Homo sapiens: one gene and its partners. Changing the gene in region 2 together with the main gene of any one other region gives a genetic interaction. Each region holds a gene or a part of one and is shown on either strand. Other genes may lie near its edges. The genes, in order: CDC25A, FGFR3, POMC, PRKAR1A, ERBB2, CDK6 and MAP3K4.

Region 1 (4,293 bases), on a different chromosome or scaffold from region 2:
AGTGATATCTACAGTCTCAGAAACCAACATATACCTGATCATGAGAAACTAAGTTTGCTTCCCTACCTTTAACATTCTTTTAACTGTGTCCTTTTGGAGGTATGCCAGGAACCACCCTGGGGAGGGAGACAGGCTGAGTGGGATTCTAAATACCCACACTCCCTCCTACACTTGCCAGAGCAGCTCTGCTTGCAATTACCTTGGAGAAGTCTCCTATAAGGTCCCTTGGGTCATTGTCCAAAATGTTCTCAATGGTTCCTTTGGGGGAAGATGCCAGGGATAAAGACTGATGAAGAGTCTGTAACAAATCAAAGGTAGAGAATGAGACAAGGGTTCTGAATGGAACTTCCGAAAACATTCACTTGGAGCATGTCTCGAGGAGACTAAAATGTTAATGCCTACATTTAGTAAGAAGTTTTTATTTTATTTTATTGAATCTGGAGTGAACAAAAACAGATGTGGGTTATTGACTAGGTCTCCTATTATTCCAGTGTCTAACCGAATTGCTCTGAAACTAAGTTTTCCTTCCTTCCTTAAAAAAAAAAAAAAAAAAAGGGGGTGCAGGTGGTTTGGCTCATGCCTGTAATCCCAGCACTTTGGGAGGCCAAGGTGGGTTACTCACTTGAGCCCAGGAGTTCCAGACCAGCCTGGGCAAGGCAGGTGAATCGCTTGAGCCCAGGAGTTCCAGACCAGATCAAAGAGCAAGACCCTGTCCACACACACACACACACACACACACACACACACACACACACACACACAAGCTGGGCATGGTGGTGTGTGCCTGTAGTCCCAGCTACTTGGGAGGCTGAAGTGGGAGGATCACCTGAGCCTGGGGAGGTCGAGGCTACAGCAAGTGGTGATGGTGCCACTGCACTCCAGCCTGGGTGACAGACTGAAACTATCTCCAGAAAAAGAGAAAGAAACAAGGGGGGTTAAAACTAGGATTAAGTTTAGAAAAAGTATGTCTTAACTTTTTTTTTTTTTTTTTTTTAAAAAGACAGAGTCTCGCTCTGTCGCTCAGGCTGGAGTGCAGTGGAGTACAGGAGTGGAGTGCAGGCTGGAGTACAGTGATCTTGGCTCACTGTAACCTCTGCCTCCCAGGTTCAAGCGATTCTGCCGCAGCCTCCAGAGCAGCTGAGACTATAGGTGTGCGCCACCACGCCCAGCTAATTTTTGTATTTTTAGTAGAGACGGGGTTTCACCATGTTGGCCAGATGGTCTTGAACTCCTGGCCTCAGGTGATCTGCCTGCCTTGGCCTCCCAAAGTGCTGGGATTACAGGTGTGAGCCACCGCGCCCGGCCTACGTCTTAGCTTTATTCAATGAGAAGAGGAAGCCAGCTGTTAAAAAGGGGATAATTTGAGTAAAAGGATAATACTTGTAATACACAGAAACACATTAAATGTTTTAACCCATGAATTCCTGATTATTATTGAAAAACAACTATAAGTCTTGCTTTCAACTTTGGAAGATGCTTGGTAGGGCATTATTTGGAAACTGGCAAATAAAGAGATCCAATATTCATCCTGCCTTTCCCAAGGGTAACCACAGTGTTTGATGAGTGTAAGTTTCTCTTTATAGATATATTCTAGCTAATTAATGAGGAAAGAATGTAAAAACTGCAGTATCATCTTTCTGAAACCCTGGTGAAATGAAGTAAAAAATCTGGGCAGCAATCACCAATGGCTGCCTGGCACATTATACTTCCTGATCAAAGTAGACAAAATCACCTATGTGATATTCTTGCCAAACAAATAGAACTGGAATTCAATCCATCCTTTCCAGAGTTAGGTTAAGGCAATATAGGGGATAGAAGACAATGTCTGAAGACCCCACAGGACTGTGGGAACCTTTGCAGGACAAATGACTTGAGCTCTTCAACAAATAAAAATATGCAAGAGGGAAACAGATGGAGCACTGAAATCTGAAGAGTAAGAGACCTATTGACCAACTACAGTGTATAGACTTTATTTGGATCCAGATTTTAACAAATAAACTGTAAAAGTACTTAGGAGACAACTGGGGAAAACTGAACCCAGACTGGATATTTGACATTTGATAGTAAGAAATTTAGCTCTGCCGGGCGTGGTGGCTCATGCCTGTAATCCCAGCACTTTGGGAGGCCGAGGTGAGTGGATCACTTGATGTCAGGGGTTCGAGACCAGCCTTGCCAACATGGTGAAACCCCGTCTCTACTAAAAATATAAAAAATTAGCCAGGCGTGGTGGTGGGCGCCTGTAGTCCCAGCTACTTGGGAGGCTGAGGCGGGAGAATTGCTGGAACCTGAGAGGCGGAGGTTGCAGTGAGCAGAGATCGACCCATGGCACTCCAGTCTGGGCGACAGAGCGAGACTTGGTCTCAAAAAAAAAAACAAACAAAAAAACACCCAGAAATTTAGCCCTGTATGATATGTTTGTGTGAGGAAAACACCCCACAAACTCAAAGTGATTTTTCTTATTCCCTCACTCAACAGCAACAGAAGACAGAAGTGCTGTTACCCCCAGATATGAGGGGATTTCTCCCTACCAGCAAGCAAGCAAGCAAGCAAGCAGTTCTGCAGTGGAAAATAGCTGGGTGCCGTCCAATTCAATTCTGACACTATCTACCTGCAGAGCGTCAGATCAGGAAGTTGAGGGCCCAGTCCTCAAAACCACACCACCCTTCAGACACCAGTTGGGCCTCTGGATCTTCTGATCTACGACCACCAGCTTTAAGTAGGGGTTCCCATGACCCCTTCTTTGGGTTTAATTTGCTAGAAGTGGCTCACAGAACTCAAGAAAACACATTTACCAGTTTATTATGAAGGATATTCAAAGGATATAGAAGAAGACATGCATAGGGTGAGGTATGGGAGAAGGGACATGGAGCTGCCATGCTCTCCTTGGGTGCCCCAACCTCCAGGAACCTCCATGTGTTCAGCTATCCAGAAGCTCTCTGAACCCTGTCCTTTCAAGGTTTTAGGGAGGCTTCATTACATAGAAATGATTGATTAAACCATTGGCCATGAGTGATCAACTTGACCTTTAGCCCCTCTCCTTTCCGTAGATATTGGAGGGTGGGGCTGAAAGTTCCAACCTCTAATCATGTCTCTGTCTTTCCAGTGACCAGTCCCACCCTGAAGCTATCAATCATTAGTATACAAAAAGATATGACCTTGGATATTCCAAAGATTTTAGGAGTTATATGACAGAAGGGGAAGAAGACTAAATATATATTTCACAATATCACAGGTATGATAACTGTACTCTAGCAATGCTTGACATTTTCTCCACAATGGAATTTAAAATACTAAAAATTAAAATATATGAAAATAAACCAAAACATGAGGGCCAATATATATACAAAATAATTATTAACAGTATTATTTTATCCAAAAAAAGTTTTACAAATATGGAAATAAAAAGGTCAATCTCTATTACGGTAAAAGAAAATGAATATTCTGGCCGGGCACAGTGGCTCACACCTGTAACCCCAGCACTTTGGGAGGCCAAGGCGGATATATCACCTGAGGTCAGGAGTTCAAGACCAGCCTGGCCAACTTGGTGAAACTCCGCCTCTACTAAAAATACAAAAAAAATTAGCCAGGCGTGGCAGTGGGCACCTGTAATCCCAGCTACTCAGGAGGCTGAGGCAGAGACTTGCTTGAACTGGGGAGGCGGAGGTTGCCGTGAGCCAAGATCCTGCCACTGCACTCCAGCGTGTCTCAAAAAGAAAGAAAAAGAAAATGAATATTCTTTTTTTTTTTTTTTTGAGATGAAATCTCACTCTATCACCCAGGCTGGAGTGCAGTGGCGTGATCTCTGCTCACTGCAACCTCCATTTCCCGGGTTCAAGCGATTCTCCTGCCTCAGCCTCCTGAGCAGCTGGGATTACAGGCTCATACCACCACACCCAGCTATTTTTTGTATTTTCAGTAGAGACAGGGTTTCACCATATTGGCCAGGCTGGTATGGAACTCCTGACCTCGTGATCCACCCGCCTTGTCCTCCCAAAGTGCTGGGATTACAGGAGTGAACCACAGCACTCAGCCAGAATATTATTAAATATTGATAGATATTTTCTGACATGTATACAATGTAAAGTTTCACAAATGTTCTTGCCCTTATAACCCAGAATTTCATTTTTAATTAGAAATAAAAGGAAAATCAGGGGAAGGGAAATTCTAAATGTCCAGAAGGTGATTTATTCAATTATTTCTAGTATACTTGTAAGTCAAAACACTATCGGCCAGGTGCACTGGCCTGTGCCTGTAGTCCCAGATACTTTGGAGGCTGAGGTGGGAGGACTGCTT
Region 2 (4,293 bases):
TCAGCCTCGTCCTCCCCGTCTTCGTCATCTCCCGAGGATGGAGCGTCTGCAAGGCAGAGATGGCCGCAACCAATGCCCAACCTGCCCCAGGAGGCCCCCAGGTGCCCCTCCCAGATGGGGCAGGGTCCCCCATTTGGGCAGCACTTCCTGGGGGTGCCCTCCTCTCCACCAATGACCAGAGAGACCCCCAGCCGCTCCTGACCCACGCAGGGACTCAGGGAGCCCGGCACTCGGCTCCTTTCTGTAGCTGGCGTGGCCCCAGAGCTCACCTGTCACCCGCACACTGAAGTGGCACAGTACGCGCTGCGTGAGCCGCTGCCGGCAGCTGTAGGCCCCGGAGTCCTCGTGGGAGGCATTCAGCACCTGCAGCCGCTGGGGCCCCACCAGGACACGCTCCGAGGGCACCAGCCCTGTGCCATCCTTGACCCAGACAGTGGGCCCCATGGGACCACCCCCGGGCGGGGGACAGCTCAGCTCCACAGCATCCCCGCTGCCGAAGACCAACTGCTCCTGCTGGCCGGGCTCTGGGCCCGGGACTTCTGTGGGGAAGATGGGCAACCATGAGGCAGGCACCCCCAAACCCGGCACCGTTTACAGACACAGCAGTGGAAGCCTCGGCGGCCCTGAGTGAGGAAGGCTCTGACCCAGATCCAGGGTCCCACCAGACCAGGGGCTGGAAACTGTGTCCCAAAAGGGCCAAAGGTCTCTATCTTCAGCTTTGCCAACCAGTCTGTCCCAAGGACTCCGGTCTGCCTCGGTGTGACAGCCGCCTTCCCCACACAACCTGCAGCCAACCCCACAGCAGTGGCCCCATGATGCTTCACTCATGGACACGGAGAATTCAAATCTCAAAGTGTCACAAAATGTGACTCTTCGTTCTTTTAATTTGTTCAATTGCTTGGAAACATAAAATCCATGCTTGTCTCACAGGCGGCACCACGACGGGCAGGTGCTGCGGGCAAAGGGGACAGGCTGCCCTTTGCTGGCCTCTGACTGAAATGGAGCTCAGAGGGGGTGCCAGGGTTGGCCAGCCAGCCCCCTCGTGGTGCAGATTCACCCCAGGAGGGGTCCGTCCTCAGTAGCCCCCGCACCCCATATGAGCCTGAAAAGCAGTTCAGATGGACAGCCAGGGAACAGAACAGGCGAGAAGGAAGGAGGTGCAGGGTCACGTGGCCGTGTGGACGGTCTGGGGGGCGATGCGCGGGTTCACCGGTCAGAGCACAGGCCGGAGCAGCGCGAGGGGGCCGGGGCGGGGGTGGGGGCTCCTTGGGGTGGGCAAGGTTCTGTATCCTGCAGCTCCTATGGAAGCTCCACACGGCGGTCATGACGGAAAACATACCGAGAAGAGCAAAGTACAAACACGGCGCTGGGTCCGGCCAAGTGGGTCTCACAGGCCGGGGAGTGGGGAGGCCCAGGCGGGCCCTCAAGGGGGCCGGGGGGTGGAGTCCTGCTGCCTGCAGGGGGACTGGGGCCCCCTCACAGAGGACGACCAGGCTGGGGGCAGGAAGCTGTGAGAGCCAGGGCAGGTCAGCAGCCCTGGCCCCTCCCTGGGGGCTGAGAAGCTGGGGTGGGGGCCCACCCACAGGGGCAGATGTGCAGGTGGCCCCTGGGTCCCTCCCCAGTAGCTGCCCAGCTCCCCAGAGCCACCAAAGCCTGTGACCCAAGGACACACCATGGGCAGGGCTGGGGGGACAATCGCCCCTAGGCTTCCCTGCCAGGGCCAGACAATGCATGCAGGCAGGCGTCCCGGGCTTGGGGCCGGGACGGGGGTGGGTGGTCCCCCAGGCAGCCTCCTTCTTCAGACCCAGCTGGGCGGGTTGCGCCATCACTTGTCATTCTGCAGACGCGTGGCCTAGATTCGGGGGCCCAGCTGCCCACTCTGGCCACACCAGTCCCTGGCTGCCCGGCCAGGCCCTCTTCTGCCCAACCCACCTGATCCAGCCACACACGCCTAGTGCCCAGGGTGACCCTGCCAGCCAGAAGGGCCCACACTCATCCCCTGAAGCATCCGAAGGAGCCCTCGCCCCACCGGGACCCACAGCTCAAGGACTGCCCCTGTAGGGACCCCGCAGTCAGGGGGGCTCCTGGCCTGACCTCCAGCCCTCCGGTCCTGGCCAGTGTCTTGTGGGGACCACCCAGAGCTGGGAGCTGCTCGAGGCCCCCCAGAAGGCCGAGAACAGGCTGGTTATGGCAGCCTCAGCTGCAGGCCCTGGCCCAAGGGCAACAGCCGGTTGGTTCCGGTTTGGTCTGAGTGGCGACAACAGGTCAAGCCATCCACACAAGTATTTGCTTCAGCCTGGTCCAGCACGGGGGGACGGGGGACACAGCAGCCCCAGGCCAGCCACACCAGTGGCCATCTGCCCGTGTGTGGTGGGGAGGGTGCAGCCCTGACTGCCCCCCCCACTGCCTGCCTGCTAGGTGCCAGCAGAGGCCAGGGTACCCCAGCAGGGGCTGGGTGGCGAGCACCAGGTGAAGGACAGTGTGACACGGGGCATGAGTGGGTGCTATAAGTTCAGGGTCTGACTCCCACTGGGAAGTCAGCAGTTGGGTGGAGCCCCCATACCCCACCCAGCTGCCAGGCATGGGGAGAGCTATAGCCCCCCAGCAGCCCTAGGAAGGGTTCTTTCTTTCTTGATCCACAAAAGGGAGGCCCCACTGACACCACACAGACACTGGTGCCCAAACACGTTGGAGACAAAACTCCTGCTGTACCCAAGGCGGGGTAGGAGGCAACGCGTCCCACCTCCCACCCTTCTATGGATCCCACAACACGTGCTCCTGCCGGCGCCCCAACCCCACACAGTGCCGACCTCAACTTGGGCTCCACATGCCAACGACAGCCCTCTGCTGTGTCCCAGAGTCTCCACAACTCTGCCACTCACTGGTCCTGTACCTCAGTTTCCCCCACTGTGGCACAAAGTAAAAATCCCACCCCACAGGCCCAGGAGCTCAGGGAGGGCACCAGGCCCTGAAATGGCTGCAGGAGTGAGGGTAGGGGTGAGAGGCGCTCCCTGCCCTGGGTCTCTGGCCCCAAGACTGATGTCCATTAGGCAGGGTGCTGGGGACGGCCAAACTCTGGCCTGGGGAACCTTTCTCCAGGCTCTGGGTCTCTGCAGTGGAGGCCCAGTGCATGTGAGGGAGCATGGCTGAGAGGATGGGGGAGCCTTGCTCCATCATAAGCCCCTCGGGTTGACCCCAGAGAACAAGGATCAAATCCAGACTCGCTTCCGGAGCTGGCTGCCCCAGGGGTTTATTTGGGTTTTGGGGTGAGATGAGGGCCTGGGGTCAGGAAACAACACATTCTGGTTTCGGATGCACATGAAGTTCTCTGCAGCTCTCTGGGGTACAGGAGGTATTGCCAGGTAGGAGCTATAAAATAGCCTAAGAGGAGGGGGCCCCCAAAAGTCCAGCCTCCCTGTCTCCCCACCTGGAGTTTCACAATAAAGTCCGGAAAAAAGGGATCTGGAGGCTGGGCAGGCTAAAGAGGGCTTGCCAGGGTTATCTGGCCTAATCCTTCAAACAGCCTGCCATTATCGGTTCTCTTGGACAGGTAAGGAAACTGAGGTTCGAAGAGGGCACCCGAGCCTGAGCTGGCAGCCTAGAGGTCCAGGCTGACCCCTACCCCACCAAAGGTGGCTCCACTCCTGGCTCATTCACTCCTGAATCACTCAGGTGAGGGCTGCATGCCTCCCTAGATGAGGTGACTTTAGATCCCCGTCCTCCAGGAGACCCCAAGCCCCTGGGCTCCCACTCAAGCTCAGCTGTAACAAGGGGTGCCACAGCCCCAGATCTAGCCCCAAGTGAGACCTGAGGGCTGGGGAGCTGGGGGGTGGGTAACAAGGGGTTCCTAGGCTCACACAAGGACCTGGAGGCCAGGCTCAGCCCAGGTTAATGAACCACCCAGAGGCCCACGCGGCTCAAAGTCCAGCCCTGCAGAGGAGGAGTGGGGGAGGTTGCAGCCAGCACCTTCGGGAAAGGCCCTGCACCCCCAGACCCCTGCTGGGTGGGGTGGGACTGTGGGAGAGCCGACCTTGTGTACCTCCCTGCACCCTGGGGGGTCACTCCAGGTCCCAACCAGGAATACGGCCCCCTGGGGAGATGGGGGCTGTCCTGGCAGGGCCTGGGGTGGCCAGGGCAGTCCAGTGGCCAAAACCTTTCCCACCGCCCTTGACCCCTGCGAGCCAAGGCTCCATAATTTATGTTCCCGGGCAAGCGCCAGCCTAGACCTCAGTCCATTTCACGAGGTCTTTGTATTTTTACTGCCCGGCCCATCTTGTTAAGGAACCGGATTAA
Region 3 (3,404 bases), on a different chromosome or scaffold from region 2:
CAGAAATTGGGGTGGGGGCACTGTTTTGACTCTTGAGCCTGGGACTGTGGGAAAAAGCAAGATTTTGTGTAAACTAACGTGAAGAATTCGTATATGATGGGCTGGGGAGAGCAGCTGGAAACTAGGAGACCAGTTGGTTGGGAAGCTGTTATCAGAGAGGCCTGGGGGAAGTACTAAGGATGAGAAGGGCTGGAGCTGAAACACGCGGGGAGGGAGGAGCCTGGGCACGGCAGGAGGGGTCAGAGGGCCTGAGTCAGGGCTTAAGCCCTAGGGGCTGGAAGAAGCAACTGCGTAGAGTATGTTGTATTAAACAGATGTGTGTCTCCATGAGTGTGTGTGTGTGAGAGAGACCGTATGTCTGAGCGTATCTGTGAGTAGCCTGGGAGTGAAATTGGAACTGATACTAACCCTCAGCTCTCACACTTAGCTTCTATGATAAAAAGAAGATTATGTCCATTTTCTCCTTTAATCTTCACAATAACCCTCATACTGGGAAGGGAGGGGTAGATGAAAGAACTAAATTTTGGAGAAGTTCAGAGACTTGCCTAAGGTCCCATGGATTGCTACGAGCAGTTCCCCGGAGACATTACCAAGACTTCTCACCTGACAGTCCAGAGCACTCCCAGGCGTGGGTAGGCCTCAACCTGTCCAACTGGCTTTTGGAGGTGGACCGGAGCCGGGGAGCCCCTGAGCGCCCGGGGTCACTCTTGCAGGAATCCTGCCTTTACACGTGTGCTAGCTGAGCAGTCTCCCACTCAGTGGAGTGTGTGGAAAATACGGCCATCCTAGAGGTGCTGGAGCCACCCTGTGCCTTCACCCAAACTATCTGATCCCTCGAAGATCCATTTGGGGGTGGGGGCAGGAAGCACATTTTCCTTTCACGCTCACTAAGTCCTGTGAAATATCCTACCGCATGGAAACCACTGTGCTCCTCCGATCCATGCTGCTGTTATTTGACGGCTACGTATTTTTACTTTATTCACACAGTTTACATTCAAAGTCAGAGGTGGATGTGAAATTTGAAAGGTTTTATTTCCTAACTACAGGCAGCTTTAAGAGGCTGATTATCTGCCACGACCCCCCAGGCTGGGAGGCGGCAGCAGGGCAGGGGAGAGCAAGGGGCTTTGGGGTCGACCTCCTGGGGGAGGGTAGCCCTGGGGCCCCGCTGTGCCCTCACTCGCCCTTCTTGTAGGCGTTCTTGATGATGGCGTTTTTGAACAGCGTCACCAGGGGCGTCTGGCTCTTCTCGGAGGTCATGAAACCGCCGTAGCGCTTGTCCTTGGGCGGGCTGCCCCAGCGGAAGTGCTCCATCCTGTAGGGGCCCTCGTCCTTCTTCTCGGCCGCCACCAGCAGGCTGTGCTCCAGGTCGGCCTGGGCCCCTGCGCCGTCATCGGCAGGGCCGTCGGGGCCATCTCCCTCCCGGAGTCGCTGGCCAGTCAGCTCCCTCTTGAACTCCAGGGGGAAGGCCTCGGCCGACTCGTCCTCGGCGCCGTTAGGGTACACCTTCACTGGGCGCCGCTTCTTGCCCACCGGCTTGCCCCAGCGGAAGTGCTCCATGGAGTAGGAGCGCTTGCCCTCGCGCGGGCCCGGCTTGGCACCATCGCTGCGGGGCTCGGGGCCGCCCTCAGGCAGCGGGCCGCAGTCTTCGCCCGCTGAGACGTCCTCGCGCTTCTGCCCTGCGCCGCTGCTGCCGCTGCTGCTGCTGTTGCGGCGGCCGAATCGGTCCCAGCGGAAGTGGCCCATGACGTACTTCCGGGGGTTCTCGGTCAGAGGCTGCTCGTCGCCATTTCCCGGGAACATGGGAGTCTCGGCCGAGAGGTCGGGCTTGCAGGCCCGGATGCACTCCTGGGGGAAGACGCGAGGGCATGAGGGCAGCCCGTGCCCCGCACCCCGGCCCGGCTGCCGCGCCCGTCACTGCGCCTAGGCCCTGGCCGCCCTCGCCACGTGCCGAGGACACAGGGCACAGTGTCGGGCGTGTCAAGCGTCGAGGCCTCCCTACAGAGCAGGTCTGCCCACCTGCTTTCTTGGCACTCGTGGGCATCTAAGATCTTGCCACTGCCTCTTTTGTCCCATCCCCTTCATGCTTCTGCCTGGCAACTGCAACACACTTCCCATCCCATTCCATGGTTTGTCTAGCCATCTAGCCACCCCTAGCTTTTGTGAACAGGACCAAAGTCTTACTGTTATATGCCTGACATAAAGGAGTGGCTCCAAGAAAGGCAGACGGGTGGTAGTTGTTGGCACTTAATGAATATTGAGGGCCGGGCACGGTGGCTCACACCTATAATCCCAGCACTTTGGGAGGCCAAGGCAGGCAGATCACATGAGGTCAGGAGTTCAAGACCAGCCTGGCCAACTATGGTGAAATACCATCTCTAGTATAAATAAATAAATAAGCTGGGTGTGGTGGCGGGCGCCTGTAATCCCAGCTACTCTGGAGCCTGAGGCAGGAGAACCGCTTGAACCTGGGAGGTAGAGGTTGCAGTGAGCCAAGATCACACCACTGCACTCCACACTCCAGCCAGGGCAACAGAGCAAGACTCCGTCTCAAAAAAATAAATAAATAAATAAAAAGAATATTGAATAAATACATATGGTTTAATTCAAGTCCAGGAGGGGAGTGGGGCTGAAATTTGGGGGATAATCTCTCCAGGTGATAGAAGTCTGGCTACTAGGGCCCATATTTTTAAACATATTTTTAATAATGCCTCAACCTGTGTGAACCTGGGAGGTGGAGCTTGCAGTGAGGGGAGATCGCGCCACTGCACTCCAGCCTGGGTGATAGAGCGAGACTCCGTCTCAAAAAAATAAATAAATAAACAAAAAATAAAAAATAATGCCTCAACCTTACCTCAGTGATGAAAAACCTACTTTATGCCCTACCCCAGCTCCATCTCTGCACTAAGCCTCCAAAACTGCACCTTGGTTCTTTCACGACTTCTGAGCTGATTTCTGAGAGATCCCCCAGTGAGCTCTGGGGCAAGCTTATTTCCCTGTAATCTCATTCTGACTGGAGGGAGGGGTGGAAAGCTAGCGTTATTTCCATTGCACCGTCTGTGGAACCTGTGTCTCTGCTCCTTGTCCCTAGAGGACTCTATTGTGGTACATATTAGCTTAGGAAAATGGCTGCATAGGCTGCAGCCTTGAGTTTTCAGTGATAAAAAGATGAAAAGCTCACTGGCTGCTCTCTTTCTTGGGAATAGCAAAGGAGAAAATAAAAGGATCCTACCCACTCTGTTGAGCTGGACATTGCCTACTCCAGGTGTTCAGAATTACAACTCTGTGGAACGTTAACAATGGAAAAAACTAATTTACACTCCCCTCCCGTGGACAGATAGTGAAACAGGAGACTCAGAGAGGTGATAGGACCTGGTCAAGGTCCCACACCTCAAAACTGGGTCTAG
Region 4 (4,293 bases), on a different chromosome or scaffold from region 2:
CTCTTCTTCCATTAACAATGTAAGTTAAGAGGAAAACACCAATTCCAAAGGGGAAAAAAAGAGAGTAACACTTGAAACACTCTCAACAGAATGTACCTCAGATGATAACAGATGCTATCCTTTATTAATGGGCAAAAGTCATTAGTACAAGCCATTAGTACTCACATAACATGTGAGTAACAAATCAGATATTCATTAATGTCTTGACAACAATTATCTGTGATGCACACAACAGTAACACACTGCAAGACAAAATCCTGAAAATTGGGTTTTTTTGGATGCTACTGCAGATAGCAAGAGACCCTCCTGCCAAAAGAAATGTTATCAGGAAAAACAATTCAAGCCCAACATAGTGATCCAAGAATGTCTAGATTACTGAGTTATTTCATTAACTCAATAAGCCATTTTCTGGATCTGCCAGGCCAAGACCTATGCTAGGCAACAGGAAATTAAAAACAAATAGGAGAGGGTCCTGAGCCTGTGGAATTCACATTCCAGTTTGATCCCAGATAAAAACAAATAATGAAATGATGTGATGGTAACCACGAATTTAAACGAGATCGTATCTATAATACTTCTCCCAGCAGAGCTAGGATCACTCTTTGTAATCAAGGTTTAAACTTGAAGTTAAAAGACAAAAAGAGTTTACTTGCTTTTAAAAACTACTTATTGGACCAATTCAAATAAAACCTAAGATAAACTATTAAACATTCCTTTTTTCACATCTAGAGCCTTAAAAACAAATTCCTCTCAGATCTAAAGAATTAGTTGTTGTGCCTGAAGTAAAAGGGAAAAAATAAAAATGTGTTATCTTCTACTTTCTCATTCATTTGACCCGTTATTTCTTTTCTATATATAAATTTGTAAGTGCCCATATATTAATCTCCAGAACATTGGCAGCATTCAAGAAAAGCAATGGCGTGGGAGGGAGACCTTTCATTATTATGCCCCTTTGTACCTGCACAACTTTGAAATATGTGAATATGTAACCTACTTTTTAAAATATGGTTTTTAGAAAACTCATTTCATGTTAATTCTGGTTGTTCCAATAACCAGTAAGGTTTTCTCATTTCATATTAACACAGGTATAAAACTCAAGTCTCTCCCAAGTTTAAAGTTTAAGAATACATGACTGGGTACAGTGGCTTACGCCTATAATCACAACCCTTTGGGAGGCCGAAGGTGGCAGATCACTTGAGTCCAGGAGTTCGAGACCCGCCTAGGCAACATTGTAAAACCTCATCTCTACAAAAACACATAAAAATTAGTTGGGCGTGGTGGCACACACCTGTAGTCCCAGCTACTTGGGAAGCTGAGGCAGGAGGATCACCTGAGCCTGGAAGGTAGAGACTGCAGTGAGCCATGATCGCACCACTGCACTCAGGCCTGGGCAACAGAGTGAGATCCTGTCTCAAAAAATAGGCCAGGCATGGTGGCTCACACCTGTAATCCCAACACTTCGGGAGGCCAAGGTGGGCAGACCACAAGGTCAGGAGTTCAAGACCAGACTGGCCATTATGGTGAAACCCCATCTCTACTAAAAATACAAAAATTAGCCAGGTGTGGTGGCAGGCACCTGTAGCCCCAGCTACTCAGGAGGCAGAGGCAGGAGAATCGCCTGAACCCAGGAGGCAGAGGTTGCAGTGAGCCGAGATTGCACCACTGCAGTCCAGCCTGGGTGACAGAGCAAGACTGTCTCAAAAAAATAATAATAAAAATAAAATAAAACACACACACAGTTTAAGAGTATAAATGAAAACACAAATTCTCCCACCCCCAAATTTGTCACTGACATTTCACAAAAATTTCAGGAAAAATTTCACAAATAACATTTCACTTGGGACTACATTCTACTTCACTGAATTTTTAAGATTAATTTTGAAGTAACAAAAGCATTCTGATTTTAGCAGTGTCTCATGGATTCTAGTGAGTCTTTTAAAAACAGCAATCTGAATATAACCTAATCTGACAACTCAGAGCCATTACTCAGATCATGAGTTTTCTAGTATATACTATGATATATTTTTATATCCTTTCTCTTGCTGTTGTCATCCTTCTGTCAGTCTCCTTCCTCCTCAGCTCTTTAAGTGAGGTGATGAATAACCTAAATACCTTGACGTGATCATTACACATTCTATGCCTGTAAAATATCACATGTACTCCATAAAAACATACAAATGTTATATATCAATAAAAAATTAAAAATTAGAAAAAACCTCCCAGTCTACTCAGTGGTTAATTATGTTCTTGACTCTGAGGTTCAAATTCTGCATTCGGTTTTGCATTAAATTCTGCACTATCTTCTTGACTCTTAGGTTCAAATTCTGTCCCCACTACTATGTTTTCCCGATTATTTGTTCCCTCCCTGCTTCTGTCACTCTTCCCTGTGGGTAAAGTATACTTCCCACCCCACTGACTTAAGGCTTGGCTACAGGACTTGCTCTGGCCATGGAATGTAAGTGGACATGCCATACCATGGTTGCCTGTGTGGTTTGGCTCTGTCCACCTTGAGCTTCTGCCCTCCCTCTGCTTTGAGAACAGCATGCCCTATATAGGGCTGCTCCTTCTGCTCAGCCCCAGAACAAGATATGTGGTGTCAAGAACATAAGACAGGCTGATACCAGAAGAACTGCACATGACTGGTCTGTTGTAGTAACCACTGAAATTTGGGGGTTGTATGTTGCTCCAGCAAAAGCTGACGACTACAGTCTATAACCACAGCCACATTACTTAATTTCTCTCAGTTTTACTGCTATGTCTATAAAATGCTGAAAATCACATACCTCGTACATTTGAAATAACGAGTATTTATGTATATAAAGTGCTTCACACAGTACCTGACACAGCAGACACAAGGTCACTGTTATTTTAATTCCTCTTACCTAAGGGTCTAATAAATACAAGAGTAAAAGAAGACTCAAATTCCAGATGACTGAATTAAAATGCAGAAGCTTTCAAAAGACCAACTGTCAAGAGTTTTTGGTACATTTCTTATGGAGTAGTTGAAGGTAACAGAAACACAACCCCCCAGTAATGACGAAGAAGGTGATGAGAATATGACTGTATTTTCAGACTGATATGGTTTGGCTGTGTCCCCACCCAAATCTCATCTTGAATTATAGTTCCCATAATCCCCACATATTGTGGGAGGGACCTGGTGGGAGGTAATTTAATCACAGGGGTGGTTACCTCCATGCTGTTCTGGTGATAGTGAGCTCTCATGACATCTGACAGTTTTGAGGGGCTTTTCCCCCTTTTGCTTGACCCTTCTCCTTGCTGCTGCCATGTGAAGAAGAATGTGTTTGCTTCCCCTTCTGCCATGATTGTAGCTTCCCGAGGCCTGCCCAGCCATGAGGAACTGTGAGTCAAACCACTTTCCTTTATAAATTACCCAGTCTTGGGTATGTCTTTTATTAGCAGCATGAGAACAGACTAATACAGTAAAATGGTACACAGAGCGTGGGGTGCTGTTACAAGGATACCCAAAAATGCAGAAGCAACTTTGGAACTGGGTAACAGGAAGAGGGTGGAACAGTCTGGAGGGCTCAGAAGAAGACAGGAAAATGTGGGAAAGTTTGGAACTTCCTAGAGATTTCTTGTACGGCTTTGACCAAAATGCTGATAGTAATATGGACAATGAAGTCCAGGCTAAGGTGGTCTCAGATGGAGATGAGGAACTTGAGAACTGGAGTAAAGGTGACTCTCGCTATGCAAAGAGACTGGCAGTATTTTGGCCCTGCCCTAGAAATCTGTGGAACTTTGAACTTGAGAGAAATGATTTAGGGTATCCGGTGGAAGAAATTTCTAAGCAGGAAAGCATTCAAGAGGAAGCAGAGCTTGAAAAATTTGCAGCCTGACAAAGCAATAGAAAAGAAAATCCCATTTTCTGGGGAGAAATTCAAGCCTGCCGCAGAAATTCACATAAGTAACAAGGAGCCAAATGTTAATCACCAAGACAATGGGGAAAATGTCTCCAGGGCATGTCACAGACCTTCAGGACAGCCCCTCCCATCATAGGCCCAGAGGCCTAGGAGGGGAAAATGGTTTCCTAGGCCATGCCCTGGGGCTCCTGTACTATGCAGCCTCAGGACATGGTACCCTGCGTTCCAGCTGCTTCAGCTCCAGTCTTGGCTAAAAGGTACAGCTCTGGCCATTACTTCAGAGAGTGCAAGCCCCAAGCCCTGGTGGCTTACAAGTGGTGCTGGGCCTGTGGGTGCACAGAAGTCAAGAACTGAGGTTTGGGAACCTCCCCCTAGATTTCAGAAGATGTACAGAAATGCCTGGATGCCCAGA
Region 5 (4,977 bases), on a different chromosome or scaffold from region 2:
CAGGGAAGGAATCTCTTTCCAGATCATTCCATCACCCAAGGACAGGCACAACTACCCTGGGCCCCACCCCAGCCCTCCCAGCCGCAGCCCCACACTGGCCCCTCACGCTGACACTTCAGCTGTCTCTCTCACCCACAGCCCTGTGTGTCAACGTGGCCTCTGTCCCCTCCTGCCCGCAGCCCCCTGTCATGCTGGTAGGGCCCAAAAGGAAGACAGGCATTGGCTGGACAGGAAGGGAGAGGACTCTGAAGTCAAGAGGGAACCTCAGGGCCCCCAGCTCAGCTCCACTTTCTACAGCCTAGAGAAGTGGATGGAAAGGTCATTCGCCTGAACAAGAGGAGCGCTTCTCCTCCCATCTGGCCACCTGCCTGCCCCTAAGGCTTTGTTCAACCCATTATTGTTGGCTGGAATAAGACTCTAACCACCTCTTAATGCCTCCTCTTCAGAGTCCAAAAATTCCCTGGACATTACTGGGTAGCTGGGAGCCTTGGATAAGTTGCTTCATTTCTCTGAACTTCCATTTTCTCATCTGTGCACCTACTTCACAGGACTGTCACAGAGATTAAATGAAAGCATGGATAAAAACCTAGCATATAGGAAGTACACCGTACATTTCTTAAAAGTTAAGACAAGACAGGTTCATACAGCAGGAATATGGGTAATCCCAAACCACGAGAAAATTAAACATGCTTTGTGTTTGACTTTGGAATGCCACGTATTTTTTCTTTTTACATTTGATCCCTATCTTTTCAATTGTTTTTTTCTTGACAAATAAAATGAGTACTTTCCCCAAGTATAGTAAAGAGAGGAGGCTGTTGGAAGAATCATACTGGAATTAAAATATGAAGGAGTTCTGCAAGATTAAAAGGATGTATTTGCTGCAATTTGTAAAACCCATACCTCTAAGAAAGGATTTCAGAAAAATCCTGACCCCTCTGGGGCTCCCCCTAGGCCTCCCCTTCCCCCACATTCCTGCCCCAGACCTCACCCCTTGGGTAAAATCTGGGTGCTGGAGGCAGCTGGGTGGTATACTTTTTTTCTGAAACGGAGTCTCACACTGTCACCCAGGCTGGAGAGCATTTGCAATCACAGCTCACTGCAAGCCTCAACTTCCTGGGCTCAGGTGATCCTCCTGCCTCAGCCTCCGGAGTAGCTGGGACTACAGGCACGTGTAATCACATCCAACTAATTTTTGTATTTTTTGTACAGAGTTTTGCCTTGTTGCCCAGGCTGTGCAATGACTTTTTAACTAACTCCTGCACAACACAATCAATAGTGCAGGTTGAGGGGTGAGGACATGAGGAGGCCCCATCCAGAGAACCCAGCCCTCAAATCCAGCTCTGCAGCAACTGCCATTCCCTGATCAACTCCCAGCCCAAGGTGAGGAAGGGCAGCAGCTCAGCCTGACAGCTCAGTATGGCCTCACCCTTCTCATCAGAAGATGAGAGGTGAAGATGCTTGTCTGGGAAACAGGGAGGGCAAGGATGTACTCCCTGGAAGAGAGGAACCTTCTTCCTCAGCAAGAAGGCGTGGCCATAGAAGGCTACCTCCCTCTGTTTATGGCAGATCTGGCCCAGCACCTTAAGGGAGTTCCTGCAGAGGACAGAGTTCAGCCTGTGTCCCCAAGTCAGCAGAGAGACTGCTGTTTGGCAACACAAAGCCCAGACACACAAATACAAAGACCACACAACTGAGGAACACCCTGGCGTAGACCTGCAGAGATAACACGGCCATGCACTCACTCACAGAGGGCCCCTCGGGCAACACACAGCCACGATGACACCCACTCCCTCCCCAGACCCTCTGACCTATGGAGACCACCCACGACTCCCAGAACACTTTCATTTTGTCTCCCCTGCAGCCCAGTGACTCAGGGAGCAGTGTCCCTCATTGCTCCAGGTGCACTCATCCATATAGCGATTTCGAATGCATGGTTGGGGGTCGCACTGCCTGGGGTCCCATCTTGACCCCACCACTTACTAGCTGCTACTCAACCTCTGGACTGCTACTCAGTCCAGAATGCTGGCAGAACTTCCACTATAGGGGTGTTCTAGGATTAAAGGAGAATGCATGCAAAACACCACAAACAGTTCCTGGCAGAGTATACCTGGCCCAGGCTATATGTTAGCTTTTATGATTAATGCACACAGGTGGACAGATGGGTCAGGATACACACTGCCCCCACTCACCCTTCCCCACGCACAGCACCAAGGAAAAGGCAGCAGAACAACGCAGCCCTCCCTAGGCTCCCATCTGGCCTTATTTCTTAGCTTCCTTCTCTGGGAACTCTCCCACTTTACACCCCAAGAAACCCACCCCCACCCCTCCATGGTCCACGCGCTCCAAAAGTCACAGAGCACAGTCCCTAAGCTGGCCCCAAGAATCTGTTCAAAGCAAACGTCTCCCCCGCCCCCAACCCAGACCCCAGCAAGAGGCCACCCTCCGGGCCACCCTTTCCTCCCCGGCTCTGGTTGGGACAGGTTGCTATGCCACCCTCCACTCCACCACACACACACACACCCGACCCCGCCAGAAGCAGGAGCAACCAAACCAAAATCGTCTGAAGGGGAGCGGGGAGGGGCTGGAGGAGGGGCAGGGCAGAGGACCCCCCCAAGGAATCCAGCCCAGGCCAGTCCGGAGGCGGAGGCTGCCAACTGGAAAGGCTTTGAGAAAGCTTGAGGGGGCTCAAGAAGGGGGGAAACGCGCGCGCGCGCTCTACGCAATACACCCTTTGCGGGAAAACTTTCTGAACAATTTCAGAGAACTTCTTTGACAAGTTCCCGGAGCCCCTCGGAGCCTGGAAAGCGCCAGTCTCTTGGATGGGCCATCTCGAGCCGCTGCCGTGTAACTGCCCCCTCCCGCCCGAGGGCCCCAGGGCCCGGCTGCCCTGAGCGTCTCGACTGTCCACAACTTCGGGATAGGAGAGCTCGTCCGGGCCCCTCTGGCCCCGCCGGCCGCGGGACCTCGGCGGGGCATCCACAGGGCAGGGTCCCGCCGCTGCTCCGTCCCCTCCCCACACCAGACCCACCTTGGGTGCTCGCGGCTCCGGGGGGCAAGAGGGCGAGGAGGAGCCCCCAGCGGCACAAGGCCGCCAGCTCCATGGTGCTCACTGCGGCTCCGGCCCCATGGCTCCGGCTGGACCCGGCTGGGAGGGCGCGGGGCGCGGGGTGCTGCGAGGGGTGGGGGCCGGGCGCGCGGCGCAGTAAAGGGCCCCGTGGGAAGGGGCGCGCGGCTGCCCGGGGGGCTCCCCTGGTTTCTCCGGTCCCAATGGAGGGGAATCTCAGCTTCACAACTTCATTCTTATACTTCCTCAAGCAGCCCTCCTCCTCCACCTCCTCCTTCTCCTGTGATTGGGAGCAAGCGCGCTCCCAGCTCGCCCCCTCCAACTGCATTCCAACAAGTCTGGGAGTGGCAACTCCCAGCTTCACTTTCTCCCTCTCTTCGCGCAGGCCTGGGTGCGTCCCTCCTAGCGCCGGGACGCCTGGGTTGCCTGCAGCCGTTCTCACACTTTTCCTCGGAGAATCCCTAAATGCAGAGGCTGGTGACTCTGCCCCCTCCCCCGGAGTCCGGGATAAATTCCCTAGGCTGCCACTCTTAACACCCTTTTAAGTCTCAGGTTTTATCTTAAACTTTCCTGGGGAGCTTGCATCCTACTCCATCCCAAGCCTATTTGTTTTAATATCAAATAATGGTTTTCCCACCACATCCTCTAGTAAAATTGATAGTCAAGGAGGGGGATGTGTTGTGTTTACCTTGTGGCTTCCAGGACCCCCGGGGCATATCTTCTGGAATCTTTGAAGTATCTGAAAAGCATGATCTTAAGAGGGTCTACAAATTTGGGAGGAGACAGTCACATCGAAAGGACTTTTTTTTTTTTTTAAACGAACTTTTGCTCTTGTTGCCCAGGCTGGAGAGCAATGGCGCGATCTCTGCTCACCACAACCTCTGCCTCCCTGGTTCAAGTGATTCTCCTGCCTCAGCCTCCCGAGCAGCTGGGATTACAGGCATGTGCCACCATGACCAGCTAATTTTTTGTATTTTTAGTAAAGACAGGGTTTCTCCACGTTGGTGAGGCTGGTCTTGAACTCCCAACCTCAGGTGATCCTCCCGCCTCAGCCTCCCAAAGTGCTGGAATTACAACCACGAGCAACTGCACCCAGCCCAAAAAGACTTCTATCTCAATTCTTCAAAATGCACCCTTCTTGCTTATTTAAGGAGGCACCCAGCACCCAATGCATTCAAGGTTTCTTCTTTGCCCCTTGCCTTCTATTAGCCTGCTTAATTCCACTTCTCAACCACATTCTATTTGGAGCCCCTGACCCTATTCCTTAGGCCTAGTGGTAGGGGTGGGGATGGAAGGAAGACTTTTTTTTTTTTTTTTAATTTCAACAAGATATTGCATGGGACATATTTATACTAACAAATTATTCATTGTTTATCTGAAATTCAAATTTAACTGGGCCTCCTTATTTTTATGTGCTAAATTTGGCAGTTCTAGTTGGAATGCCCCAGCCAAGAATGCAGCTATACTGGTCAAGAAGGGATCAAAGGCACCTATCAGGGACTGGAGAATGAAGGACACCAGCATCTCTTTCTCTCTTCCCTCCCCCCCATCTCCCACACCTCTTTACAGGTATACACTTGCATTTCTAAACTTGCTTCCATGTGCTGAGCACACTTAAAGCAGGCACCTCTTGTGGGACAGGTTGCTATGCCATCCTAGGGAGTTGAGAAACAGGGGCCTCTGGGACCAAGAGGACCTGGGTTCAAATCTTGAATCTGGCCAGTCGCGGTGGCTCACACCTGTAATTCCAGCACTTTGGGAGGCCGAGGCAGGCAGATCACGAGGTCAGGAGATCGAGACCATCCTGGCTAACACGGTGAAACCCTGTCTCTGCTAAAAATACAAAAAATTAGCCAGGTGTGGTGGCGGGTGCCTGTAGTCCCAGCTACTCAGGAGGCTGAGGCAGGAGAATG
Region 6 (4,293 bases), on a different chromosome or scaffold from region 2:
AGGATTTATCTTCTAACAATGGCAACATTTTCCAAGGAATCCTCTGCATCAAAAGTTCTGATGCCCTAGGAAAAGTCTATAATGTTTGGAAAGTAACTGGTCTTACGTGTCTAGGTGGTAGCACCCCTATTTTGACTGGGGGCAGGGGGTGGGGAACACTTTTATAAATTGGATTTTTTCCTAAGGCAAGTTATCTGTCTCAGAGAATTTCTAACTCCTCTCTTGAATTTCTACTTATCAGCTGTAGTATTACTGAAATTTAGGGAAACAATTTTTTGCTGTGCAGAATGACCAAAGATGTTGCCAATCATTACTTAACAACAGGGCCATGCTGTCCCTGATGTGAGAACCACTTTGAGGCTAAAGATGGACAATACGGATTATTTTTTTTTATTTCTTTGAATATACAAAGATATTTTCTTTTTTAAAATTCTTTTTCTTAAGACTTAATTTGCTATATATTATTTATTTAATTTACTGTACGTAAGGCATGAATTTACTGTATGCAAAACAGGTCTTTCAAAGAGAAGGGTATTAATACCTATTTCCAGGCTGCTCTTTTTGTATTTGGGGTGCAGAATTTCACAAAAATCCATCTGAGAAATAATGAACTATATGGAGAAATAGAAGCTAACCAATGTCAATAGCTATTATGGTTTTGCAGCTGAATGGCAAAAAGAAACAGGGTATCATAACTGTTATTTTTTGCCAAAACAGGGCCGTTGGGTTCGCTCTTTCTATTCAGGGTTATATGAGCCTTCACCTGGCATGGCGGTGCTCTACGTTCATGCATCATCCAAGTTCACTGTGAATTTGATTTCTTCTTTACAGCTGGCACCATAGCTTCAGATGAGTGCATTAACAAACCTGTGTAGGCACTCTGTTTCTCAAAACCATGATGCTGCAGACAGGTCAACGTTGCTCGTGCTCTTTCTTCCCTGACCTTGAGCTGTGTGTTCCCTAGGCATTGTACATACAGCTCTGAAAACAGTGGTTATGGCAGAAAGCATTTGGAAACTTGTAACTGATTCCTGTCCAGTGGCTAAGATGCAACAGGCTATTTCTGCAATGGATCCTGTCCACAACAAGCCCAGGCTGGATGTGACTGTAGCTGTAAGCAGAATGCTTTCTGCCTACCCACTGCCATATAAAAATGGGCAAAGACATTCTATCCACCAACTAGTCATGGGCAGTACTAACATTAGAGACATGGAAGAGGGACAGACTGTCATTCAAAATAGGAAAAATAAGTTTAATAAAAGGACAGCACTCTCTCACTCACCACTGAGGTTAGAGCCATCTGGAAACTATAGATGCGGGCAAGGCCGAAGTCAGCGAGTTTTATTTGTCCGCTGCTGGTCACCAGAATGTTCTGTGGTTTTAGATCGCGATGCACTACTCGGTGTGAATGAAGAAAGTCCAGACCTCGGAGAAGCTGAAACATCATATCCTAATAAAATTAAAAAAAGAAAATCAGTAAACACTCAAAACGGAAGTTGAGCATTTGCTATGCTGGACGCCGAATCCTTAGCATTTTGTGGCTGCTTGGCATGCGGCAGGCATTTGACAGGTATTGGCTGAATGAGTGAATTGTCTCCCTTCCTGCCTTTCCACTCCCACACTTTCAAGAACACTGCAAAAAATTTCACTCTCAACCTGTATTTTATTAATGAAAGGACAATTTTAAAATAGTTTTTGATGGAATAGGAAACATTCTGGAAGGATATCTGCCAAACTGGTTTCAGTGGCTCATGCTGGGGAGAGGAAGGAGGAGGTCGTGAGGGGACACTTTTTGCTTCTCTATTGTTTAATGTGCCATTTCAACAATTAAAATCCAGTGAATAATAATATTGTTATTAATGGTGATTATTATTTTATAGCACCTAGTACTAAACACTCACTATATATCAAGCACTATTCTAAGCATTGTCCACTTAGTAAATAATTTAATCCACACCACAACATTTAGGTAAATAATATCATTACACCATTTTACAGGTCAAGAAACTGATACACAGATGTAGGCTACTAATTAGCCCAAAGTCATACTAGCAAGAGAGTGCTGATTAACTGTTTGTTTTTTTTTAAACAGGATCTTGCTCTGTTGCCCAGGCTGGAGTGCAGTGCTGTGATCACGGCTCCCTGCAGACTTGACTTCCTTGGCTCAAGAGATCCTCCTGCCTCAGCCTCCCAAGTAGCTGGGACCACAGGTGCATGCCACCATGCTAGGCTAATGTTTTTAGTTTTTGCAGAGATGCGATCTCACTATGTTGCCCAGGCTGGTCTCAAACTCTTGGGCTCAAGCTATTCTCCTGCCTCAGCCTCCCAAAGTGCTGGGATTACAGGTGTGAGCCACCATGCCCAGTCTTAATCAACTGTTTTAGAATATTAACAGAGTCTTGATTTAAACTAGGGTCTGGAAAACCTCGATTCAAATCTCCAATGTATTCCTTTATCAAATCAATGAACAAATGAATACGTAAAATAAGGCAAGCCATTTAACCTCTCTAAGGCTTAGTTTCCCTGTCTGTAAAATGGGACAGTAACAAAGCCCACTTTATCATAGGATCATTGTAAAGCACTTAGCACCATAGTTAATATTCAGTAAATGGCAGCGCTTATTACTGTTATTATTAACCAGTATGGAGGAGCGGATCATTCAGGATATAAACCAATATCAGATCTTTTTCTAATTTTAGGACCAATACAAATATACACAAGATTTAATACTCAGGGACAGTGTCTGAAGGTAGGAACTAAGACATTGGCCATGATGTCATAATCCTCTGAAATGTGTGGAAATTAAGAGTGACCTACTCCCCTGACCCAAATATTATAAGAATGGTGTATACAAGGGAGGATGGAGCTGTTTTGTTAATACAAGGGTTAGAAAAATGACTGGGTACCACCATGGATTTCAGAGCTGGAAGGGGCTGTGAGGATACACTTATCATTGGCCGGACCACTGAATCCTCTCATCGAGAACAGTATATTTGGTTACTGGTTTATGGTTTTGGTTCTTCCTTTAGAGTTCGGAGTTCTGTCTTTATATTTTAGCTTGTTCAAAACCAAAGCCTTAGTTTTTCCTTTTATAAAGTGGAGAAAGTAGCGATTACTTTTCCTACTATTAAGGGGGCTAAATGAAGTAATGTATGCCAAGTGCTTGTACAGTTTCTGGCATATGGTAAGCACTTGACAAACAGTAATTATTAGGATGATTATTGCCAAGATAAGTGTCCTGATTTCTGGGGGAGACTGATTCACAAACAACTAAAAGAAAACATGACCACTGCTACAAGGTCGGTGTGAACAAAGCACTTAGAGGGGGTATGCAGTGATCTAGAATCATTTCTGAGATCCCCCTGAGTGAATATTCTGAACTGGCAGGGGTGACCTTCTAAGCTTCCCAAAACCCTGGAGAAGACTGCATTGGGGAGGAAAAGCCCTTCAAGACTTGAGAAGCACTGCAGGTCCAATAAGTTGTAATGAATAAACAGGAGTGTGAAAATGTAGCACAAAATGTTCAAGGAACATTTTGGCAAATAAGTCTTTATTGGAAACACATGCACACAACTTGTAAGCACTGAATTTTAAAAAGCATGACTAACCTAAAGTAATGTCCTGTTGGCTCATCATCTTTAGCCTCTATACAGTTAAGTGTCACTCATTTAAAACAGTATAAAGAATAAATCTGTTTGGTTCATGCTGCAGTGTTCAAACAACTTTAGCAGCCAATTAGCAGTATACAAATTTAAAAACATGCACATCGTTTTTATTTGTGTTATAACACACACTATGTTTTTCTTAATTATAAAATTGCTAAGATGTATAGATGCATGCTTAATGCAGAAACTAATAAAATGTTTTAAGAATCCAGAGAAGAAGAAAAATCACTAAAAAATTCCACTACTTGGAGAACAGAGAAAACTTCACTGTTAATATAACTTTTTTTGTGTCTTTTTAGTCTGTCTTTTAAAAATTACGTATTTTATTATATTTGGATGTATAAGTATATTTAAGTAAAAGTGGTTATTATTCTGTACACATTATTTTGTAGCTCTTTTAAAAACATGTAACAATTCATTATCAACATTTTGCCACTAATAAAATTCTGCAATATGACTTTTTTTATACAATGAGATTTTTAATGGCTGCATGGTTTTTCACCCTGGGACATGCCATAATTATTATTATTCAGTTTTAGTTGTGTTACTTTGGCACTTATACTACAGGTCTAGTTCTTGTTTGTTTAAAGGTAGAGTAGATTAAAAGGGCTTGTTAATATCATACCAA
Region 7 (4,293 bases), on a different chromosome or scaffold from region 2:
CTCAAAATGATGCACACTGAGGTAAAAGAGCTAATCCTTGTTCTGCCCCAAAGCAGCAGCTATGATGGCAGTAAAAATATAAATCTCACAAATATTTTAGAAGGGCCAGGGTTTACAAACCAGACATTGACTTAGTTGAACACTAATGTTACAAAAAGAAAAAAAATCTTACTCTGCTATGAGGAGTACTTTAATTTCTCAGCATTATCATTACATGATATGCTGAGATTAATATCTCATGAAAAAAACCACTATTACATATAAAACATATACAACCAGAAAATAAGGAGTGACTGGCTTATTTTATAATGAAAAAAACTTTAGAATAATCCATACCAAGAAGTCATCTTCTGGTAAAGCTGAAATAAAGGCAGGTTCAATTGCTTGTAGAAAATCAAATCCTTGAGTCGCCCACCTGGTACACGAAAAAGTTCAGTAATCACATAACAACCAAGAAAACGCTGTAGCAGTTTTAGACTGTACAATACTGAAAAGTAACATAATTATAATTACTATTTAGGACAAGACACTTTTTTTTGCTTGGGTTCAGTAAGTTTACAGCGTGACCTTTTGGAAAGGAGAATAATTTTTTAAAATTTAATTTTGTTTTGAAACCAATGGGAAGCATGGAAGAGGATTTTAGACATGATAGGTGCCATCTGTAATTCAACAATTATTTATTTGTAATTCAACAAGTATTTATGAGTTTTGTAACACAAAGTTCCTACTTTGAATCTCAGATGCAGCAAATGTGTTTTCTCTAACTTGGAGAAATTGCTTAATGACTTTAAGAAAGTGCCCCATGCTATCCCTCCATTACAAATTACAGAACACTCAGCTATTTCTCACACAGTCATGACACTTTAATAACTATGTTTACTTTAGTGGAGCTAGTATTGAGCCTCACAGACGATTCACCCATTTCACCCCTGCAAATTCCAAAATGGTTTCTTAATGAATAAATTTCATGAGGGAGGAAAATACATTAGTCATCAGGAAGACTTGTCAAAGGAGAACATGAGTTCCCTTAAAGGTAACTCAAATTTGGAACAAATTTAAAAAAAAATTTTTTCCCAAGAGTTACGCAGTTTTCTCTACATATTTTTCCATTAAAAAAAACCTGATCACCGAAGAGTTTAGAGTGTTCCCTTCTGTGTCGTCTGCTCAAAAAGAATCCCACAGAACATATATGAACAAATACCACCAAGCCCACATGACACATTTCAGAAACATCCTACTTGGTCATTACCTGGGTCTTGTACCTCTACCACTCTCACATTTAGTCAGGACATAATTCATCCACTTCCGGGCAAAGCTTATATATTTGTCTCCTATCTTCTGTCTAAACTCCCCAGACATCAAACGAACAACTTCTTTATGATACTGTAAGAAGATTTCATGTATATCAACATTAAGGAAATGATCATTAAATAATATCACACACTATAATGCCATGTCTAAAATGTTTTCTAAAAACAAAAAGTGAAATCCAATTAAAATTTCTATATTTTGAATAGTATGAAGAATTATGGAAAGTACAGTGTTTCAAAATGCAGTTTCATAAATGTTTTACTCCTGAGTTTAAATTAAGAATGTGCTTTTATGACATAAAACATCTCTTTAAAGTTTTAAAATGTAAGTAGATGGCTGTTAGCACAAAATAAAAGTTGGACAATTACCTAACAGTTTAAAAGTAAACTAACATCTCTGATATACAGCAGTGATATAAGATGATATTCTTGATTAAGCTATGATTACAATATCAGATTTACTGTAAAAGGTTCCAAAAACTTTCTGTAAGTTATCAAGCAATTACTAAATTGTACCGTGTTTCCTCTTATTTTGAACCTACCTCAAATCCAAAATTGTACCCCTGAATCATTGCTTCTCGGTAGTACTGTTGCAAGGTGACAGATTCAGATTCATCAACCTCAGCATCAAATTCTGATGTGAACATGTGGTCCACGCGGTCAATGGCATTGCTTATCCTGTTGCATAGCTCCAATGCATCATTCTGAAGAGTCCAAACCATGATTAATGCAAAATGAAGCAAATCATACAATACTTACCACATTTTAAAGGAAGATTTCGTTCATCATCACACAGACATTAACCACTACAAACAATTCAGCCACTTGGTAAAGGAATTACCAAATATAGAAGAAATTATGTCATTTTATTTGGCATTCTTAAATAGAAGAGAAAAAAATGCATTTAAAATGATACAGTCTAGTTATAATCTGCTCTTGGAATAGATGCTTTTATCTTCAATATTTTTATACATCAACCACCTGTTGTTTTCTCCTCCTGGACGGTTGCTCAACCATAAGTACGGGTGCAATTCCACAGAGTGAAAAAGTCCATGTACTTCTAGATGACCTCCTCCGATCGTGCTGTCCTCATTTCCCTGCTACTCCCTAGTCCAGGGGTTCTCTTCTGGGGCAGATTTCTCCCCCTCCCCTCAGCGTCTGGAGACGTTGTCCAGAGAAGTTTTTGATGGTCAAAATTTGGAGGAAAAAGTGGAAGTACTGGGATATGGTGAGTAGAGGCCAGGGATGCTGCTAAACATCCTACAATGCGCAGGACGGCCCTCCACGACCAAGAGTTACGGGCCCAAACGTCCACATCCAAGAGGCTGAGAAGCCCTGCCCTGGCTCTAAACATCCTACAATGCGCAGGGCGGCCCTCCACGACCAAGAATTACGGGCCCAAACGTCCACATCCAAGAGGCTGAGAAGCCCTGCCCTGGCTCTAAACATCCTACAATGCGCAGGACGGCCCTCCATGACCAAGAGTTACGGGCCCAAACGTCCACATCCAAGAGGCTGAGAAGCCCTGCCCTGGCTCTAAACATCCTACAATGCGCAGGACAGCCCTCCACGACCAAGAGTTACGGGCCCAAACGTCCACATCCAAGAGGCTGAGAAGCCCTGCCCTAGCTCTAAACATCCTACAATGCGCAGGACGGCCCTCCACGACCAAGAGTTACGGGCCCAAACGTCCACATCCAAGAGGCTGAGAAGCCCTGCCCTGGCTCGAGCTTTTGTCACCTCTGTCAGCAACATCACAATAGCTCCAAATCGGTCTCTCTCTCTACCCACCCTTACACACGAGTGCACACAAGGTCTCCATCAGGCAATCCCCTTACTATGGTTACAAAATATTCTTCCAGCAATCCATAGAGAGAGATAACCTAAATATTTAGTTAATAAATGTTTATAGATAAATCAGACAAATCAGACCAACAGAAGAAAAACAAGTGTTTACGAAATGACTTGTAACTTCAGAGAATGTTTCTTCTTCAAGAAGTTAAGCCTTAATGTGAGTGAGAAGACATAACTGATGGCCTGGAAAAGTGTGGATGAGATCAAGACTGATACATGGGATACAAAATAGAAAGTGTCAAAAACAGGAAATAATGGAAAAAGACAGCCAGGCTGGGGCTTGTCATAAACTTTGAAAGGCCTTTGTACTTCTCTGCAACTTTTTTCTATTATATTTAATTTGGTTGAATTATTTATTAAACAAAACAATAAATAAATCTTCTATTACACACTGCTGATATGGAGTACCTCTAGTAAATACTGGGGATTGTGAAAGGAGAATGAAATTTACACTGGGAATGAAGAGACCTAAATTATTAAATTTTCAACTTTGCCACTAACCAGTCATGTAGCCATTATGAATAAGTCACATAAAGTTCAATTCTCTATCCTTTCCAATTATAAAGTTCTACAGCTTCAGGAAGAATCTCAGAATATGTAGTTTAGACATAAGAAAATATGTATTGGGAAGAGAGGTGAGTGGGCAGGCAATTCAGGAGCTCAAGTTCCTTGGATGATATTACCTTACACACATTACCACACACTGACTTTCATCAAAAAGGAAAAATCTCAGCTAATGTAGAGGACAGTGTAATACCTTCAGCTGCTGCAAAGCTTTGGCGATGACCGGCTGACTGGATGTCTGCTCCTGGCACAGAGTCATAAGTCCCTCAATGGACTGCTGGAAAGCTTTTCTCTGAATTGTGAGATGCGCAGACTGCATGACAACTAGTAAAAGATTATCCACCTGGGAGGAAAATCAAGCACAGGACATAAAAACCAACCCAGTTACTAGTTGTTATTCTAGTTCAACACCAGTCCAAAAACAATGCCAATCTCAGGGATACCAGGCCAACAACCATCTAATCAGAAAGTCATTTTTAAGCAAAGCTTCTCCTACACAGCAACACGCTTCAGTGGGCATTGACAGCTGGGATATTCAGCACCACGGAGAAGAACCCTTTGGGAC

What was found.
Region 1: changes in FGFR3 (region 2) and CDC25A together harm fitness more than expected from each alone (negative genetic interaction), as found in Homo sapiens cells (one large-scale study listed by BioGRID).
Region 3: changes in FGFR3 (region 2) and POMC together harm fitness more than expected from each alone (negative genetic interaction), as found in Homo sapiens cells (one large-scale study listed by BioGRID).
Region 4: changes in FGFR3 (region 2) and PRKAR1A together harm fitness more than expected from each alone (negative genetic interaction), as found in Homo sapiens cells (one large-scale study listed by BioGRID).
Region 5: changes in FGFR3 (region 2) and ERBB2 together harm fitness more than expected from each alone (negative genetic interaction), as found in Homo sapiens cells (one large-scale study listed by BioGRID).
Region 6: changes in FGFR3 (region 2) and CDK6 together harm fitness more than expected from each alone (negative genetic interaction), as found in Homo sapiens cells (one large-scale study listed by BioGRID).
Region 7: changes in FGFR3 (region 2) and MAP3K4 together harm fitness more than expected from each alone (negative genetic interaction), as found in Homo sapiens cells (one large-scale study listed by BioGRID).

Annotation. Positions count from the first base shown.
Region 1 is NC_000003.12:48,167,647-48,171,939, forward strand, and holds part of CDC25A (M-phase inducer phosphatase 1), read right to left. Parts: intron 299-4,293; coding exon 200-298; intron 1-199. UniProt on the Homo sapiens protein: Tyrosine protein phosphatase which functions as a dosage-dependent inducer of mitotic progression. Directly dephosphorylates CDK1 and stimulates its kinase activity. Also dephosphorylates CDK2 in complex with cyclin-E, in vitro.
Region 2 is NC_000004.12:1,795,500-1,799,792, reverse strand, and holds part of FGFR3 (fibroblast growth factor receptor 3 isoform 1 precursor), read right to left. Parts: intron 540-4,293; coding exon 270-539; intron 47-269; coding exon 1-46.
Region 3 is NC_000002.12:25,159,908-25,163,311, forward strand, and holds the end of POMC (pro-opiomelanocortin preproprotein), read right to left. Parts: intron 1,846-3,404; coding exon 1,174-1,845; 3' UTR 953-1,173; downstream 1-952.
Region 4 is NC_000017.11:68,518,368-68,522,660, reverse strand, and holds part of PRKAR1A (cAMP-dependent protein kinase type I-alpha regulatory subunit), read right to left. Parts: intron 1-4,293. UniProt on the Homo sapiens protein: Regulatory subunit of the cAMP-dependent protein kinases involved in cAMP signaling in cells.
Region 5 is NC_000017.11:39,698,363-39,703,339, reverse strand, and holds the start of ERBB2 (receptor tyrosine-protein kinase erbB-2 isoform a precursor), read right to left. Parts: upstream 3,277-4,977; 5' UTR 3,102-3,276; coding exon 3,029-3,101; intron 551-3,028; exon of another isoform or gene 426-550; intron 1-425. UniProt on the Homo sapiens protein: Protein tyrosine kinase that is part of several cell surface receptor complexes, but that apparently needs a coreceptor for ligand binding. Essential component of a neuregulin-receptor complex, although neuregulins do not interact with it alone.
Region 6 is NC_000007.14:92,724,344-92,728,636, forward strand, and holds part of CDK6 (cyclin-dependent kinase 6), read right to left. Parts: intron 1,451-4,293; coding exon 1,283-1,450; intron 1-1,282. UniProt on the Homo sapiens protein: Serine/threonine-protein kinase involved in the control of the cell cycle and differentiation; promotes G1/S transition. Phosphorylates pRB/RB1 and NPM1.
Region 7 is NC_000006.12:161,089,100-161,093,392, reverse strand, and holds part of MAP3K4 (mitogen-activated protein kinase kinase kinase 4), read right to left. Parts: intron 4,072-4,293; coding exon 3,922-4,071; intron 2,015-3,921; coding exon 1,853-2,014; intron 1,384-1,852; coding exon 1,250-1,383; intron 416-1,249; coding exon 337-415; intron 1-336. UniProt on the Homo sapiens protein: Component of a protein kinase signal transduction cascade. Activates the CSBP2, P38 and JNK MAPK pathways, but not the ERK pathway. Specifically phosphorylates and activates MAP2K4 and MAP2K6.